Linked DNA regions of Homo sapiens. The protein of the gene in region 1 purifies or fractionates together with the protein of each later gene. This does not show direct contact. Each region holds a gene or a part of one and is shown on either strand. Other genes may lie near its edges.

What was found. The genes of interacting proteins can lie anywhere in the genome.
Region 2: the proteins of GPC4 (region 1) and SPCS2 purify together in Homo sapiens (affinity purification with mass spectrometry; 2 studies listed by BioGRID and IntAct, with this or other methods). This does not show direct contact.

What each region holds. Positions count from the first base shown.
Region 1 is NC_000023.11:133,303,824-133,307,576, reverse strand, and holds part of GPC4 (glypican-4 precursor), read left to right. Parts: intron 1-1,422; coding exon 1,423-1,553; intron 1,554-1,658; coding exon 1,659-1,805; intron 1,806-2,715; coding exon 2,716-2,852; intron 2,853-3,753. UniProt on the Homo sapiens protein: Cell surface proteoglycan that bears heparan sulfate. May be involved in the development of kidney tubules and of the central nervous system.
Region 2 is NC_000011.10:74,952,182-74,955,934, forward strand, and holds part of SPCS2 (signal peptidase complex subunit 2), read left to right. Parts: intron 1-3,753. UniProt on the Homo sapiens protein: Component of the signal peptidase complex (SPC) which catalyzes the cleavage of N-terminal signal sequences from nascent proteins as they are translocated into the lumen of the endoplasmic reticulum.

The sequences.
Region 1 (3,753 bases):
TAGTACAATGGTATATTCATGCTTTCAGCCCTTACTTAGAGTTAGAAGCATCACTTGATTGGCGCTTACCACAATGCATTCTGAAACTTCATTTGTTATTACTGTTTTAAAAATTGCATTTCATGGAAATCTATTTGTGGTTTGTGACATCGGAATTGTAGTTTAGAGAAATGACCCCGTGCATTAAAATGTTGTGTAGCATTTGTTCTAGGTTGAAGGTGAAAGCTTGATGACTAGATTTGGTTTCATTGATATGCTGATGCCTATGCTGCTTTCCACTAGAAAGCTTAGATAGAAGCTCAGCTGGGGGCTGCAATTGTCAGCTGTGTTCTTTGGGTAGGACACAATCTTCCGGGAACTAGCTCTTCTTTCAAGTAACCATCCTTGCACTACCTGAAGATGATAGATAATGTGGGTCTAACTCCTTTCTTGCCATGCACTAAGCACTAGAGTGTAAAGGGGGGATAAACAAGTTTAAAAGTTCACTGTTTGTCGTTAATGAAGCATCCTTTTTGTCATTTGGGGTTTTCATTTCCAAGTTCTTCTAATTTTGTAAAACAGGTAGCAGGCAAAAATACTAAGCCTCATAATCCTAAGAAACATATATGGCAAGAAAACAAAGACAATGTATTTTATTGAAGCGATTCAGTGCTTACTGGAAAATGCCATGCTACTCCAGAGTCTAAAGCAGGATAATCGGTGAAGATATATACTGTGAGCCCACTAATTTTGTGTACTGTATCTTGTGTCATCTTCTCACTTGCAAAAAAAAGGAGGTACATGCCTTAAGATAAATTGAAGCCATTGTATTTGCAATGAGAAGTTTTTCTTAATACAAAAATTGGATTATTCAAAGTTTTAGTATTTGAAAAGTCATTAGAATTCCTAGGAACCCTTTCATTTGTATTATCCAACGGTGCACTCAAGGATCTGAGGGGTTTTGTTTTTAAAAACAAAAGAAAAGAATTAATATGCCAGCATCTTAACTGATTTATGTTTTTGACTCTTGTAAATGGAATGTGAAACGAGAAGATCCTAGGGAAGTCTCTGGGAGAGCTGGCATGTTATTTTGTCTCCAGCCTTAGGTTTGTCATCTGGGAGCTAACTAAGAGCCTTACAGTGACAGTGGCTGACACACGAATAATCAGTATTGAGGAAAGTTCCTGATTGGGTTTCCTTGCTGTAGAACTAAGCCTTCATCTGGCCATTTCACACTTTAGAGAGCTAGTGATACATAGTGACTAAATGCAGTTTGGTGTAAGGGAAATAGACATAAAAACAAGAATTCATTATGATCCATGCCTTACTTCCCCTGCCCCCATGCAGGAAACAGACAGAAAAAAAAATCAGATTGATTTACCCAAGGCCAAACTAATGATTGACTTTTTATGCTGTATTGTTCTTCCCCAAACCTCATATTAGATGCTATGCTGATGGTGGCAGAGAGGCTAGAGGGTCCTTTCAACATTGAATCGGTCATGGATCCCATCGATGTGAAGATTTCTGATGCTATTATGAACATGCAGGATAATAGTGTTCAAGTGTCTCAGAAGGTAATGAAGGCAGGATGCTGGAAAGGGGAGCTAGGGACCTCCCCCGCCTCCGCCTCCCGCCTTGGGAGTGACTTCCCTAACATGACGACACTTACTCTAATGCAGGTTTTCCAGGGATGTGGACCCCCCAAGCCCCTCCCAGCTGGACGAATTTCTCGTTCCATCTCTGAAAGTGCCTTCAGTGCTCGCTTCAGACCACATCACCCCGAGGAACGCCCAACCACAGCAGCTGGCACTAGTTTGGACCGACTGGTGAGCGTTTTGGCAGGAAGGGCCGTGTTTAATGACAAAGAACTGAAAACTCTTGCTCAAAATGAATTTTTAGCTGGAAGGCTAACAAGTGTGGGTCTTTCAGGTGTCACTTTTCAAGCAAATAGGATGTGGATGTCAGTCAATCTGCCTGTCCCATTTTCTAGCCCAGAAAGTTCTTGGGTAGCCAAGGAGTTATGATGCAATAAGTCTTGTCTCAAAATTTCTCTTTAGATTCACCATGCATTTATTGAACATCTACTATGTGCCCATCACTGTGCTAGGCATAGAGAAGCTCAGAGAAATAAGGCAGATCCTTGTTCTCAAAAGGCACCAACAAGGAGGCAAAGAGGGAGAAGTAGATGTTCCAGGCTTATTAACATAAAATGATGTTTAGTAAAAGCTGAGATGGGAGAAAAGTGAGTAACTGTAGGCAAATTGCTTTATCCACAGTAATATGCTACAAAAATGTAAGAAACTATTCCTACAGTAGTAGGAACACAGAAGAGGGAGCCTGAGGAGACAGGGATGGAGAGAAAGAGCAATAGCAGCTATGTTTCACAGAGTGCATAATATACATGCTTGATCCTGACTCTAAAAGCCTTAGGAGAAGAGACTGCATGTTATCTTTGTGCCTACAGGGCATGGAGACTGGTAGGCCTCAGATGGTACTTACAATGAGGTGGGCAAGGGGTCTAGGCCACTCCTTTGGAGCTTGCATTTCAACTATTATTTGAGTGGTTTTGTACTTCTAAGATATAAATTGGAGTTGCATCTTCCTCTTCTAATTAAAGTTGAAAATGAATTGCATATCACTCTGGAGATACTTTGGAAATGGCCAGAAGGCACACTTGTAGGTAGTTTTGTCTTGTCTTACAATGATCTTTTTTTGTTGTTGTTGTTTCATAATTAGGTTACTGATGTCAAGGAGAAACTGAAACAGGCCAAGAAATTCTGGTCCTCCCTTCCGAGCAACGTTTGCAACGATGAGAGGATGGCTGCAGGAAACGGCAATGAGGATGACTGTTGGAATGGGAAAGGCAAAAGCAGGTTAGTGTCTGTTGAATGAATTTGAAGTTTCTCCCTTCCTAGATGCCTGGGTGACCTTCAGAGAGGGTTCTCTCAATTGTCAACCGAGGCATCAGGAAGCAATTCACAGTAGGTAGCAACAACATGGAAGGCTTCTAGGTGTTCTTAGGAACAGGCTTTGCACTAGGAGTGTTGAGAAGGCACCCAGTTACTTACAAAGAGTGCTGAGTCAAAAGTTTGACAGTAGTTATAGTCTCGTATTAGGGCTGTTCCAATAGTGTCATTATTTTTAAAATATTTAATGCCTGTGGCTCTTTGTCCAATGGCCTAGCCTCATAAATAACCAGTTCTCAAAGGTTCCATTCTCTGACTTGATGCCCTGTGTCCCTCCCTTAGACGCTCAGTAACTTAGAGAAGTACCCATACTTTTTTTTGTTTGCTTGTTTGAGATGGAGTCTCGCTCTTTTGCCCAAGCTGGAGTGTAGTGGCACAATCTCGGCTCACTGCAACCTCCACCTCCCGGGTTCAAGTGATTCTCCTGCCTCAGTCTCCTGAGTAGCTAGGACTACAGGTGCCTGCCACCATGCCTGGCTAATTTTTTTTTTTTTGTATTTTTAGTAGTGACAGGGTTTCACCATGTTAGCCAGGATGGTCTTGATCTCCTGACCTTGTGATCCGCCTGCCTCAGCCTCCCAAAGTGCTGGGATTACAGGTGTGAGCCACCGCACCCAGCCAGTACCCATACTTCTTTACTTCAACCCACCATCCTCCTCAAGAGGGATAGCTAGCTTCCTTCCTTCCTTCCTTCCTTCCTTCCTTCCTTCCTTCCTTCCTTCCTTCCTCCAACAGAGTATCACTGTCACCCTGCTAGAATTCAGTGGCACAATCTTGGCTCATTGCAACCTCACTGCAATCTCAGCTG
Region 2 (3,753 bases), on another chromosome or scaffold:
ATATAATAAAAAGAGACAAATTTGAGTTCTAGTGCCGCATGTTATTAGGTTGGTGCAAAAGTAATTGCTGTTTTTGCCATTGAAAGTAATGGCAAAAACCACGATAACTTTTGCACCTACCTAATAAAAGCCACATGACCTTGGATAAGTTGTGTGATATTACTGAATTTAAATTTCCTTATGTAAATATTGTGGACATTCATACATATTATAGGCTTGTTGTAAGGATCAAATTGTATAGTGCTGGTAAATGTTCTTTGGGTTTTTTAGTTTGGTTTCCTCTGCCCTTTTTATTTTATTTTTATTTTTATTTTTGGTAGAGACAAGGTCTCACTGTGTTGCCCAGACTAATCGTGAACTCCTGGCCTCAAGTGATCTGCCCACCTCAGCCTCCCAAAGTACTGGAATTACAGGCATGAGCCACCGCACCCAGCTCTGTTCCCTGTCCTTTGGAATCTACTAGAAGTAAATGTTCTTTGTAAAGGGCTGTCTGTGGTAAAAAATAGAATGACAAGGTGATGAGAACCCCAACATGAGTAGCAGAAATAGATAAAAGGTCTCACAAAAGAGTGCTTGGAAGATTTAACCAATAAGTGAGGGACAGAAGAGAATAGTCAAGAGCTGCTTGAGTGCCTTTTCTTGGAAAACTTAGTTTCAGCCTTACATTGAACTGTTCCCTCCCTGAATTCCTCTAGCACTTACACTGCACATGGGAATTAAGCTGTCACTTAATATGACATACTGTCTTGTATTATTTCACCAATTTGTATTTGCCCGTTTTCCTGTGAGTGCTTCTCTGTAGTGATCAACACAAGATAAGTACTTTTAGCATTGAATTTCGCAGAGAAAAAACTTGAGATCTGCCACCTCAGTCTTCAGAAACAGCTTTAGAGGATGGTGCCTCTAATTGTTTGAAGACTGAGGGTACTGTGGGAGAGAACTTGGGGAAAAAAATGTTATTCTCAGTGGAGCAGGATCTGAATGAATAGAGAGGCTTTTGCTGTGTGGGAATGAGAAGCTATTACCTTTAATATAATTTTTTTTTTTTTTTGAGACAGAGTCTCGATTTGTCGCAATCTCCACTCACTGCAACCCCCGCCTCCCAGGTTCAAACAATTCTCCTGCCTCAGTCTCCCGAGTAGCTGGGATTACAGGCATGTGCCTCCATACCCGGCTAATTTTTGTATATTTAGTAGAGACAGGGTTTCACCATGTTGGCCAGGCTGGTCTCAAACTCCTGACCTCAGGTGATCCAACGGCCTCGGCCTCCCAAAGTGCGGGGTTTACAAGCGTGCGCCACCACACCCAGCCTAATATAATTTATTTAATTTGATGTGTCTTGATTTGGGCGGGGAGGGTTTTTATTTTATTTCTGCAGCTGTAGTTTCACTTGCCATAAAGAAGTGTAATAAAGAGATGCAAATATGCTCCTAGTTTTCCCTAAGCAGATGTGAATTTCTACTCTTATGAAACTGACTTTAAGAACACAGCAATTCTTGTTTCCTGATCTTAAAAATAAGTATGCAAATATAATCTTTCCGCCTCCATCACAGAATAACTTGACTTAGATCATTGCAGTATGTTATTTTGCCCCAAATACATCAAAGCATTTTCTTCTGCCTGGCAGTTATAAAGAAAAGCTGCTTGCTTAATTTGTTTTGGCTATTAAAGTTGATATGTGGTGTTAAACCATGCTTTCCAGAAGCTATTATCTAGACCCTTTTAGCCTTATACCTGGATTTCTGTCTCCTGGCTGGCCTGTCAGCCTGATCTTAAAGCACAGCTTTAATCTGTTTACATCAGACTCCTTTGAGAATTAGTTAAAATTAACAGATTTTTGGACCTTTTTTTAGGCCTGAATATCTGCATTTTTCTTCACATGTCTCTATTACCTCTGCATTTTAACAGTTACCTCCAGGTTGAGAACTACTGGCTTAAATGATTTTTTAAAGTCTCTTCTGGTTCTGACATTTTAAGGTTTTTGTTTTGTTTTTAAAAGCTATTCTGCTTAATAGTGGTTTCTTTAAAATGTTTATAATGAAGAGATCCTGAAACTCATATGATACTTCAGCCTCATTTTGTAGACAAGGACACAAGCAAAGCAACTTGCCCAAGACCACACAGTGAATTAGTAACACTTACAGAACCTGGCTCCCCCAGTGCTTAATCCAGTGCTCTTTCTTTACTCAGCACATTGCTTCCCATACCAGAGTGTGCCTTGTGCTATCTAATGTGCTAGCTAACGTAGTAGTGGGATGAGCATCTGTTGTGAGGTGGAAGACCTAGGCTGTGGCCTTGGCTTTGTCACCCACCAACCATATGTCCTTAGGTATCTCCTCTTTTACTCTACTGGAAGATATCTTAGCTTGTCAGACTTCCAGGTGATATGCTTGTGCCCTGTTACCTAGCTCTGACAAAGAAGATGAACGGTTTTATAACATTACTATAATTGTGTGTGTGTGTTTAATGAAACAAGGTGCTGGCCTTTTAATACTGTTGCAAACTGATCTTTATTAGCGTCTCAAAACTCATTATTTTTTATTTCCTCAAAATAAAAAGTATGTGTGTGTCAAAGGCCACTATCAAGAAAGTGAAAAAAGACAATCTACAGAATGAGAGAAAACATTTTCAAATCATATATCTGATAAGGGTCTAGCATCTAGACTATATAAAGAATTTTACAACTCAGTAATAAAAAGACAGCAACCTAGTTTTTAAAAGGGCAAAAGATGTAAATAGACATTTCTCCATAGAAGACGTACGAATGGCCCATAGCACATGGAAAGATGCGCAACATCATCAGTCATTAGAGAAATGCAAAGTAAAACCACAATGAGAAACCACTTCACGTCCACTAAGATTGCTATAATAAAGGGGGAAAAAAAAGGAAAATAACCTGTTTTGGTGAGAATATGGAGAAATCAGAATCTTCATATATCGCTAACAGGGATGTAAAATGTGGTGGCACTCTTGGAAACAGTTTGACAGTTCCTCAGAAAATTCAACGTAAAGTTAACCATATGACCCAACAATTCCACTCCTAGGTGTATACCCAAGAGAACTGAAAATGTGTGTCCACAGGAAAACTTGGCACACAAATGTTCATAACACAGTTATCATAATGGCCTAAAGGTAGAAACAGTCTGTCAGCTGATGAATGGATAAATGCAATGTGATATATCTATACAATGGAATATAATTTGACCGTTAGAATAAAGTATTGATACATACTACAATATGGATGAATCCTGAAAATGCGCTAAGTGAAAGAAACCGATCACAAAAGGCCATATATAGTATGACTGCATTTGTATATCCATAGAGACAGAAAGTAGATTGTTGGCTGCCCGGGGATAGGGGACAGGAATAAGATGTGACTGCTAATGGGTATGGAGTTTCTTTTTGAGGGTATGCATATATTCTAGAATTAGATAGTGGTGATGGTTGCATAACCTTGTGAGTATACTAAAAACCACTGAATTGGCATTATTTTTAAATAGTGAATTTTATAGTGTGTGAACTATATCGCAATTTTAGAAACTTATTTTTGTCTTTCCTGGAGTAACCCTTAAAGTTTCAAATTATTATTTCTTTAAACTATATGTCATGTAACACAGTGGTATCACAGACACTGATTACTTTAATACTATTACTTTAATTACTAATTAAAATATATATATATATATATATATATATATATATATATCTGCCTGCCTAGGTACCTTTTTCAGCTGTTGCTAGCACCATTTCTCT